Homo sapiens: one gene and its partner. The main gene of each other region encodes a partner of the protein of the gene in region 2 in a complex. Each region holds a gene or a part of one and is shown on either strand. Other genes may lie near its edges.

Region 1 (3,137 bases), on a different chromosome or scaffold from region 2:
GCCCCAACTGCTCCACTGCCACACTACAGCCAGAGAAGGACTCACCTTAGGCAGAGGTCGACACTGTGGAGGGCAGTGTGGTGACCCCTAAGAAACCTGGACCCTTGGGGGAGGGGGGAGGGAAAGCATTAGGAGATATACCTAATGTAAATGACGAGTTAATGGGTGCAGCACACCAACATGGCACATGTATACATATGTAACAAACCTGCACGTTGTACACATGTACCCTAGAACTTAAATTAAAAAAAAAAGAAACCTGGACCCTTGATGACCCTGAAGAATTGCTAGATTGGCTAACCGTGAAGGCCACTCTGTCCCAGGACTGCCCATCCTGCAGCCAACACATTTCCTTACTGTGAATCCACTTTGAGCTGGGGGGGCATTGTTACGTGCAGCCACAAGTATCCTCAGAAAGAGGTACTCAGAAAGTTCTCCCTGACTGAATGCCATGGGTTAGTGGCCATGGGCTGAGAGCCACCAAGCATACCCCCCACAAACCTTACCACCCACACTGGTTCCTTCCTCCCCACTGTAACAGACATTCAAAGACTGGATGCTTTTTTTGAAAAACCACAGCAGTCACTTTATTCTTAAGTTTGCACTTTACAAAACCACAAGGGAGAAGTCCTTGAAGGGGAGACAGGGGTAGGGGATTAGGGAGTGGGGGATGGTAAAGAGGGGAAGAGGAAGACCCAGAAACGAAGTCCCCTCCAACCCCATCTCGGGGACCAAGCAGAGACTAGGCCTCAGGCTAGCCCAGCAGGGCTTCCTGTGTCCTGGTTGTACAGAGCTAGGCCAAAAGACCTCAGGGGAAGGGCCACGGCCCTCTAGAGACTGCCGCCATTTGAGGGACAGCCACAGGCCAATGTTTCCTGTGCCCAAAGAAGGAAGTGGGCCTCCCTTCCCCTCCCCTAGGCCAGATAATCAGCCTGAGGCAGGGGTGAGGGCTACCCATCCAGCAGCTTCAGGATGCTCTCACGCTCCTTCAGAGTCTTCCAGGCCTGGTCCTTTTCTTTCTTGGTGGGAGTCCGCTTCTTCTGCCGGGCAGCCATGATCTTGCGAAAGGCGTCCATGACCTCGTTGTCAGCCATGCGCACCCGCTGCCTCAGCTCCTGCCGGCTCACCTCCTCCTTTGCCAGCCTGTGGGGACCAGCCAGCCAGGTGCCAGGGTCAGCCCACCTCCAGAGAACAACCCCTCCCTCTTCAAGACCGAGCCTACCCACCAGCCCAGGCTGGCATGCCTGTGGATTGTGTCATACAGTCGTGACCAAAAAGCAGTTACTGACCTACACTTACATGGCACTATCTTAAGCTCCTGAAAAATATTAACTCATGTTGATCACGGGGGAGGCTGTGCACATGTGGGGACAGGGAGATACGGGAATTCTCTGTACCTTTCTCTCAATTTTGTTGTGAACTTAAAACTGCTCTAGAAGAATAAAGTCTTGGCTGCACATGGGGGTTCACATCTGCAGTCCCAGCACTTTGGGAGCCCAAGGCAGAAGGATCACTTGAGCCCAGGAGTTCGAGACCAGTCTGAGCAACATAGTGAGACTGTCTCTACAAAAAATTTAAAAAATTAGCTGGGTGTGGTAGTGCACACCTGTAGTCCCAACTCCAAGGGAGCTGAGGATTGCTTGAGGCCAGGAGTTCAAGGTTACAGTGAACTATGATCATGCCACTACACTCCAGTCTGGGCAACAGAGCGTGACTGTGTCTTCAAAAAAAAAAAGGTCTTAAAAATATACACAGTAGGCTGGGCAAAGTAGCTCATGCCTGTAATCCCAGCGCTTTGGGAGATGGAGGCAGGAAGATCACTTGAAGCCAGGAGTTGAGACCAACCTCGGCAACAGAGTAAGACCCTGTCTCTAAAATATATATATATATACATACACACACACAAACACACACACACAGGCACACCCACTCTCTCTCTCTGTCTTTCAGTTAATCCTAACAACCCTGCAAAATATGTACTATTATTCATATGTTACCCGTGAGGAAAATGAGGCTCAAAGATGATCCCAGGATCCCACAGTTAGTGAGGGGGAGATCTGGAGCAGGCTGGGGCCAAACTCTTGTTTTTAAACACTGTTGTTTCAGGTGTTCCGGTGCCAGCAGAAGGCCTGCTTACGTCGGCATCTGCATTCCAGAGCCCCCTAAGGTCTAGGCAGCCTGAGGCTGACAGGAGGTGGGTGAGACACCAGATCAATCTCTCTGAACAGGGTCTGATTTATACATTTCATCGATGGTGGAGCTGGAAGGTCACTTAGTGATTGAGTCCAGCCTGCCAGTTTTCCAGAAGGGGAAGGAGATGCTCAGGTCAGGGGCTGCTTAAGGCCTTGCAGCTGCTCTGCAGCAGGGTAAGGGCTGTGCTCTGGTTTCCTGAGAGCTGCAAGCCATTTCTTCATTGCCCATTACTTCTTTTTTTTTTTTTTTTTTTTTTTTTGAGACAGGTCTCACTCTGTCACCCAGGCTGGAGTACAGTGGCCTGATCAAGCTCACTGCAGCCTCTACCTCCCAGGATCAAGCAATCCTCCCACATCAGCCTCCTGAGTAGGACTATAGGCATGTGCCACCATGCCTAGCTGATTTTTAAAAATTTTTAGTAGAGAAGGGGGTCTGACTACATTGCCCAGGCTAGTTTCGAACTCCTGAGCTCAAACAAGCCTCCCACCTCAGTCTCCCAAAGTGCTGGGATTACAGGCATGAGCCACCAGGCCCAGCTAGGGCCCACTACTTCTGTAACTGCACATGCCTGCTTTTCTCTCTCTTCCTCTCTCTCCCTCTGCTTCCCTCAGTGCCTCTTCCATCTGTGTTTTCTTCTTCTCACCTTTCAGAGAAAACAAACTATTATAGAAAGAGGCTTTGATTCAACCACAGGTTCAAGTCTCAGCTTGCTGTTTATTGACTGTGTGACCTTCAGCAGAGCATTTCGCTTCACTGGGCCTTTATTTCCTCATCTGGTAAACAACGAAAATAGCTCCTCCCTCCTGGGTTGTTGTCAAGACACTTGAGAGAGTGTACATAAAGCCCCTGACACACAGTAGGCCCTCAGCATACATTAGTCACTCTTATCCTTAAATACCCTGGCAGCTTGTCAGCAACTACCTCTCCTTTTAATGGCACTTATC
Region 2 (7,130 bases):
ATTTTTTCTATTTTTTAGTAGAGACGGGGTTTCACCGTGTTAGCCAGGATGGTCGCGATCTCCTGACCTCGTGATCTGCCCACCTCAGCCTCCCAAAGTGCTGGGATTACAGGCGTGAGCCACCGCGCCCGGCCATCCAACATTTTTAACTGAGAAAGGCAATCTATAAAACCAGATGCTTAATATAATACCACTTAGGTTTTTATGAGAGTAATCATAGTTGATACAGAGAAAAAAAAGTAGGTGGAGGAATAGACTTTTCAGTTTCTTTTTCTTTTTTTTTTTTCTTTGAGATGGAGTCTCGCCCTGTCGCCCAGGCTGGAGTGCAGTGGCTCAATCTCAGCTCACTGCAACCTCTGCCTCCTGGGTTCAAGCAATTCTTCTGCCTCAGCCTCCCAAGTAGCTGGGATTACAGGCGCCCACCACCACGCCCAGCTAATTTTTGTATTTTTAGTAGAGACAGGGTTTTGCCATGTTGACCAGGCTAGTCTCGAACTCCCGGCCTCAAGCAATCCACCCGCCTCGGCCTCCCAAAGTGCTGAGATTACAGGCGTTAGCCACCGTGCCCGGCCCTTTTTTTTTTTTTTTTGAGATGGAGTCTCACTCTATTGCCCAGGCTGGAGTGCGGTGGCGCGATCTCGGCTCATTGCAACCTCTGCCTCTTGGGTTCAAGCGATTCTCCTGCATCAGCCTCGCAAGTAGCTAGGATTACAGACGCATGCCACCAAGCCCGGCTAATTTTCTGGTATTTTTAGTAGATATCCAACGGGAAATCACCATGTTGGCCAGGCTGGTCTCGAACTCCCGGCCTCACATGATCCACCCACCTCGGCCTCCCAAACTGCTGGGATTACAGGCGTGAACCACCGCACCCAGCCACTTTCTTTTTCTATGTTTTTATATTATATGTACTTCTACAGTAAACATGTACTAGTATTACTTTTTCGTTTTTCTTTGAGACGGAGTTTCGTTCTATCAGCCAGGCTGGAGTGCAGCAGCGTGATCTTTTTTTTTGAGATGAAGTTTTGTTCTTGTTGCCCAGGCTGGAGTGCAATGGCACAATCTCAGCTCACAGCAACCTCTGCCTCCCAGGTTCAAGCGATTCTCCTGCGTCAGCCTCCTGAGTAGCTGGGATTACAGGCGTCCACCACCACACGTGACTAATTTTTGTATTTTTAGTAGAGACGGGGTTTCACCATGTTAGCCAGGCTGGTCTTGAACTCCTGACCTCAGGTGATCCACCTGAGTGGTGTGATCTTGACTCACAGCAACCTCTGCCTCCTGGGTTCAAGCAATTCTCCTGCCTCAGCCTCCCGAGTAGCTGGGATTACAGGCACCCACCACAACAGCCAGTTAATTTTGTATTTTTAGTGAAGATGGGGTTTCACCATGTTGGACAGTCTGGTCTCGAACTCCTGACTTCAAGTGATCCGCCCACCTCTGCCTCCCAAAGTGCTGGGAGGCCAAGGAAGGATTGCTTGAGGGCAGGAGTTTCACCAGCCTGGGCAATACAGTGAGACCCTGTCTCTAAAAAAAAAAAAAAAAAAAATATATATATATATATATATATATAGGCTCACGCCTGTAATCCCACCACTTTGGGAGGCAGAGGCGGGTGGATCACCTGAGGTCAGGAGTTTGAGACCAGCCTGGCCAACACGGTGAAACCTCATCTCTACTAAAAATGCAAAAATTAGCCAGGCATGGTGGTATGCCCCTGTAATCCCAGCTACTTGGGAAGCTGAGGTGGGAGAATTGCTTGAACCCAAGAGGTAGAGGCTGCAGTGAGCCAACATCACACCACTGCACTCCGGCCTAGGTGACAGAGCAAGACCCCATCTTAAAAAAAATGTTTTTTTAATTAAAATAATAAATAAAAATTTAAATGTTCATAGAATTAGGCCGGGCACAGTGGCTCACACCTGTCATCCCAACACTTTGGGAGGCCAAGGCGGGTGGATCACCTGAGGTCGGGAGTTCGAGACCAGTCTGACCAACATGCTGAAACCCCCGTCTCTATTAAAAATATAAGGCTGGGCACGGTGGCTCACACTTGTAATCCCAGCACTTTAGGAGGCTGAGGCAGGTGGATCACAAGGTCAGGAGATCAAGACCATCCTGGCTAACACGGTGAAACCCCGTCTCTACTAAAAAATACAAAAAATTAGCCGGGTATGTTGGCGGGCACCTGTAGTCCCAGCTACTCGGGAGGCTAAGGCAGGAGAATGGCATGAACCCAGGAGACGGAGCTTGCAGTGAGCCGAGATCGCGCCACTGCACTCCAGCCTGGGTGACAATGCAAGACTCCGTTTCAAAAACAAAACAAAACAAAACAAAATTAGCCGGGCATGCTGGCACACGCCTGTAATCCCAGCTATTCAGGAGGCTGAGGCAGGAGAATCACTTGAACCTGGGAGGCAGAGGGTGCGGTGAGCTGAGATCATGCCATTGCACTCCAGCCTGGGCAACAAGAGCGAAACTCTGTCTCAAAAAAAAAAAAAAAAAACAGGTCTAGAATTTACAATTTCAACTTTGTGCCCCAACTTGGGCCCACTCGCTCACCTTCATCAGTTGCGGATCATCCCCTAGCACAGCACGAGTCACCTGGTGATAGTACTTGAGAAGGTCATCTGTCAGTGAAGACACAGCACTGGGCACTGCCAGAGGACAGGCAGGAAGCAGGGACAGGTGGAGAGCTGGCCCTCTCCTGGCCTCTCCAGCCTCCTCCCCCTCAACCACCATCCCCACACACATCCACAAGAAGCCTTTCTGACAGGACAACCAGGGCAAGAGACTGCTCTTAGAGCCTGCTCAGCCCTGACCATCTAGGCTCTGCACACCTCTGTGCTCTGTCCTGTCTTCCACCCACCCTCTGCCAGACGGACTCCTGAGAGCTTCAGGCTCTGTGAAGCTCTGCTCAGCATACCCTGGGGGTGAAACACCGCCCCAGCATGCTGCCCAGACTTCTGTCTTAGCATCCAACATGCTGCATTATGACTAGTTACAGGTCTGGGCCCCCATCTCCAACTCTGAGCCCTCCATGCAGAGCCCAGCGCCCACTCAGACCATGGCACAAGGCAGGCATGGGTAAACACATGTTAGACGCAGACTCGGGGGCACATAGGCACCACCCTCAGAACCTAAGGGAGAAAATTCATCCAAAGAGCCTGTTTCCTACATCACCCCTTACCCGATCCTTGAGGTGCCAGGTTCCCTTTGCCATCCAGGTAGGAGACATGAACTAGAAGCAGTGCAGAGAGATGTGTCAGCCTGGCGTTTTGCCCCTTAGAGTACCGCCTACCCCTCCAAGTTCTGCCTCTTCCACCAGCCAGCCCATCACCACTTCTCTTCACGGCCCAACTCCCATCCCCAACCCATGCAGGACCCCGGCAGCCACCTCTGACAGCTGTCTCAGCACAGCCTTTGGGGATGTTGGTAGCCAGGGCCAGCTCCACCAGGTTCACCTCTCGATCCTCAGGAAAGTAGAGTTCACCCTCCCTGGCGGGGCGCATGGGCAGTGCCTCCTGTGATCCGTAACCACACACAGCCTGAGGAAAAAGGGAATTGGAGAGCAGCCTGAATCCAGGGAGGGAGCAGGCGTCAGGATCCAGGATGAGGCTCCACTGACCAGAGCAGAGAGCCCACGTTTGAAGGAAGTCCAGAAGTCCCAAGAAAAGTGGTGGAAGCCTGGGACTCAGAGCCACCACTGGGGACTTGCCTGGAGCATCCGGGGCTCCCTGGGTCAAGGGAAAGAACATGGTCGCTCCTCCCATAACTGGAAGGGTCCTGAGCCCCACACCAAGCACTGGTCCTCCTTATTCACACTCACTCAACTTTGAAAACTCACTAATGTCTTCTAAACATAGCCTTCCTCTCTCAACTCACCGCTCCAGAAAAACCACACCATGAGGCCCTAACACCCACACTGTTGCTCAGGCTCCTCCCTTAGCCTGAATGCCTTCTTTTCCTCTTGGCCTAGTTTAAGCCAAGCTCAAGTTCTTCACCACCCTTTAAGGGCCAGCTCCAGTCCCACCTCCTCCAAAAAGCTTTCTCTAACCTCTGGGCCTCCAGTGGCCTCCTCTCCCTCTTTTCTGAACACATAGCCCAGGTGGGCTGGGCCTAGCACCTGGTCTGCTGTTGCTATCAGGGTCTTGCTTCCCTTATGTGTGCGTTTAGTCTTTTTTTCTTTTTTTTGTTTTGAGACAGAGTTTTGCTCTTTCGCCCAGGCTGGAATGCAGTGGCGTGATCTCGGCTCACTGCAACCTACGCCTTCCAGTTTCAAGCGATTCTCCTGCCTCAGCCTCCCAGGTAGTTGGGATTACAGGTGCCCACCACCACACCCAGCTAATTTTTGTGTTTTTTTGGTTGTTTTTTTTTTTGACATGGAGTCCTGCTCTGTCACCCAGGCTGGAGTACAGTGGCACAATCTCAGCTCACTGCAACCTCTGCCTCCCAGGTTCACGCGATTCTCCTGCCTCAGCATCCTGAGTAACTGGGGTTACAGGCGCCCACCGCCACGGCCAGCTAATTTTTGTATTTTTAGTAGAAACGAGGTTTCACCATGTTGGGCAGGTTGGTCTCAAACTCCTGACTTCGTGATCCGCCGGCCTCCACCTCCCAAAGTGCTGGGATTTTAGGTGTAAGCTCCTGTGCCCGGCCTTTTTTTTTTTTTTTTCTTTTTTTGAGACAGGGTCTTGCTCTGTTGCCCAGGCTGGAGTGCAATCTCAGCTCACCACAACCTCTGCCTGCTAGGTTCAAGCGATTCTCATGCCTCAGTTTCCTGACTAGATGGGATTACAGACATGTACCACCAGGCCCAGCTAATTTCTGTATTTTTAGTAAAGAAGGGGTTTCGCCATGTTGGCCAGGCTGGTCTTGAAGTCCTGGCCTCAAGTGATCCGCCCACCTCGGCCTCCCAAAGTGCTGGGATTACAGGCATGAGCCACCATGCCCGGCAGCGTTTGGTCTTAATGTCTCACCACATCGCCAGCCCTGAACTGGACATGGAAGTGGCCTCATGCCACCTGAGCCCTCTGTAGCCTGCACCCCACTCACCTCCACGCTGCTCCATCTGAGGGCCCTGTTGAAGTCCTCAACCGTCAGCTTCCGGCGTTTGGTGTGCTTCATGAACTGAGAGCTATTCTGGGAGGGAGGGAACAAAAGCCAGAGTCAAAGGATGTGAAGCAGGGGGCATGGGAAACCCCAAATGAAGTGGGCCAGACTGGAGAGAAGGCAAACAGGAGACCACGCTTAGGGATCAGAAGCCTAGATTCCGTCTCTGCTCCTGTACAAAAACACCCCCCGGGTGTCACATCTTCTGTCAACACCTCAGTTTCTCACATGCAGAATGTGAGTATCTACCCGCTCTGCCTGCCCAACAGGGCTGTTGTGAGGAGCACATGGGAAGATGCCTGGCAAGCGCTTTGTCTGCTGGAAGCCCAGACAGCTACAAGTAGAGTTCTGTAAAGGCATGGACTGTCTCTGTTGTATGGAGCAGGCACCCAGTGTACACTTGAATAAATCAGCGAGGGTGGAGGTTAGTAAAAAGGCAGAAACAAGGAAAGTTGGAGGTATCAGGGGGTGAGGGGAGTGTACCTGCGTGGCCTCTCTCAGACGATAGCACACGTCCTCTGCGAGCAGCGCCGCCACCTCATCGCTCAGCTCCAGGCCCGTGCTCTCCGCCATGAGCCGGACAGACTCCCGAGGGATCTCCACAAACCGCCGCTCTTCTCGCTCTGACATGGCCCCAGTGGAGCTGGGAGTGGAGAATGAAGACTGGAAAAGCTGCCCAGCCTCCCGGAGAGCCCAGGAGTGTGATCCAACACCCTCCACACCAGCCTTGCTGCTCGTGCTCTGGAGTTTCTAAACAAGGAGCTCTGAGTACCCAGATGAGGAAAGTGAGGCTCAGAGAAGGAAACAGACTGGCCAGTGGGTCAAGAACGGTGAAGCTAGACAAAGTCCAAAGTGTTGGGGTTCACAGAACTAGGTCCCATTCCTGCCCTGTCACCTTCTATGTGAATTTGGCCAAGGCCTTCATCAGTCTGAGCCCTTGTGTCCTAAACTGTAAAACAGGCACAATAATTCCTGCCCTCTCTAGCTCACAGGGTTGCTGTGAAAATGAGATGACTGATATGATTTGGCTGTGTCCCCGCACAAATCTCACCTTGAATTTTAATAATCCCCACGTGTCAAGAGCGGGACCAGGTGGAGATAACTGAATCAAGGGGACATTTTCCCCCATGCTGTTCTCCTGATAGTGAGTTCTCAAAAGATCTAATGGTTTTATAAAGAGCTTTTCCCCCTTTTGCTCGGCACTTCTCCTAGCTGCAGCCACATGAAGAAAGACATGTTTGCTTCCTCTTCCACCATGACTGTAAGTTTCCTGAGGCCTCCCCAGCATTGAGTCAGTTAAACCTCTTTCCTTTATACATTACCCAGTCTTTTCTTTTTTTTTTTTTTTTTTGAGACAGAGTCTCGCTCTGGCGCCAGGCTGGAGTGTAGCAGCGCGATCTCAGCTCACTGCAACCTCCGCCTCCCGGGTTCAAGTAATTATCTGCCTCAGCCTCCTGAGTAGCTGGGATTACAGGTACCTGCCACCACGCCCGGATGGCTAAATTTTTTTTTTTTTTTTTTTGAGACGGAGTTTTGTTCTTGTTGCCCCCAACTCTCCTGCCTCAGCCTCCCAAGTAGCTGGGATTACAGGCACGTGCCACCACGCCCAGCTAATTTTTGTATTTTTAGTAGAAACAAGATTTCGCCATGTTGGCCAGGCTGGATAGTAGCTGGGCTTTCTGCCTATGTGTTTGGTCTTCCCCAGTTTGGCTGCAGTGCCTAAATGCTGGAACCTGTTTTGTTCACAGGGTATAGCACAATAAGAAACCGACAAAAACAGCAGCTGATGACTCACTCCAACAACGCACAGCACCAGAAGGTAGGCTCCCGTGCGCCAAAGTGATGCATCCACACCTCAGACAGGAAGGCCCAGATCCAGGATGACCCACCCAGGCATTGCCCCCACTACTCCTCTGGCAGGGGATCAATGGGTCACCAGTGACGTCCAGGTCCCTACATCCAATGGACAGCTATGTGGCTTCTGTGCAGCACTCCTCCCAATGGCTCCCCATTGTCTT

The links. Proteins that work in one complex are often made in the same cells at the same time.
Region 1: TAF6L (region 2) and TADA3 share a complex: the UniProt entries of both Homo sapiens proteins name them as parts of the STAGA transcription coactivator-HAT complex.

What each region holds. Positions count from the first base shown.
Region 1 is NC_000003.12:9,779,407-9,782,543, forward strand, and holds the end of TADA3 (transcriptional adapter 3), read right to left. Parts: exon of another isoform or gene 2,277-3,137; coding exon of another isoform or gene 2,107-2,276; intron 1,144-2,106; coding exon 951-1,143; 3' UTR 561-950; downstream 1-560. UniProt on the Homo sapiens protein: Functions as a component of the PCAF complex. The PCAF complex is capable of efficiently acetylating histones in a nucleosomal context. The PCAF complex could be considered as the human version of the yeast SAGA complex.
Region 2 is NC_000011.10:62,774,396-62,781,525, reverse strand, and holds part of TAF6L (TAF6-like RNA polymerase II p300/CBP-associated factor-associated factor 65 kDa subunit 6L), read right to left. Parts: intron 6,932-7,130; coding exon of another isoform or gene 6,861-6,931; intron 5,756-6,860; 5' UTR 5,743-5,755; coding exon 5,596-5,742; intron 5,143-5,595; coding exon 5,056-5,142; intron 3,549-5,055; coding exon 3,398-3,548; intron 3,242-3,397; coding exon 3,191-3,241; intron 2,658-3,190; coding exon 2,563-2,657; intron 1-2,562. UniProt on the Homo sapiens protein: Functions as a component of the PCAF complex. The PCAF complex is capable of efficiently acetylating histones in a nucleosomal context. The PCAF complex could be considered as the human version of the yeast SAGA complex.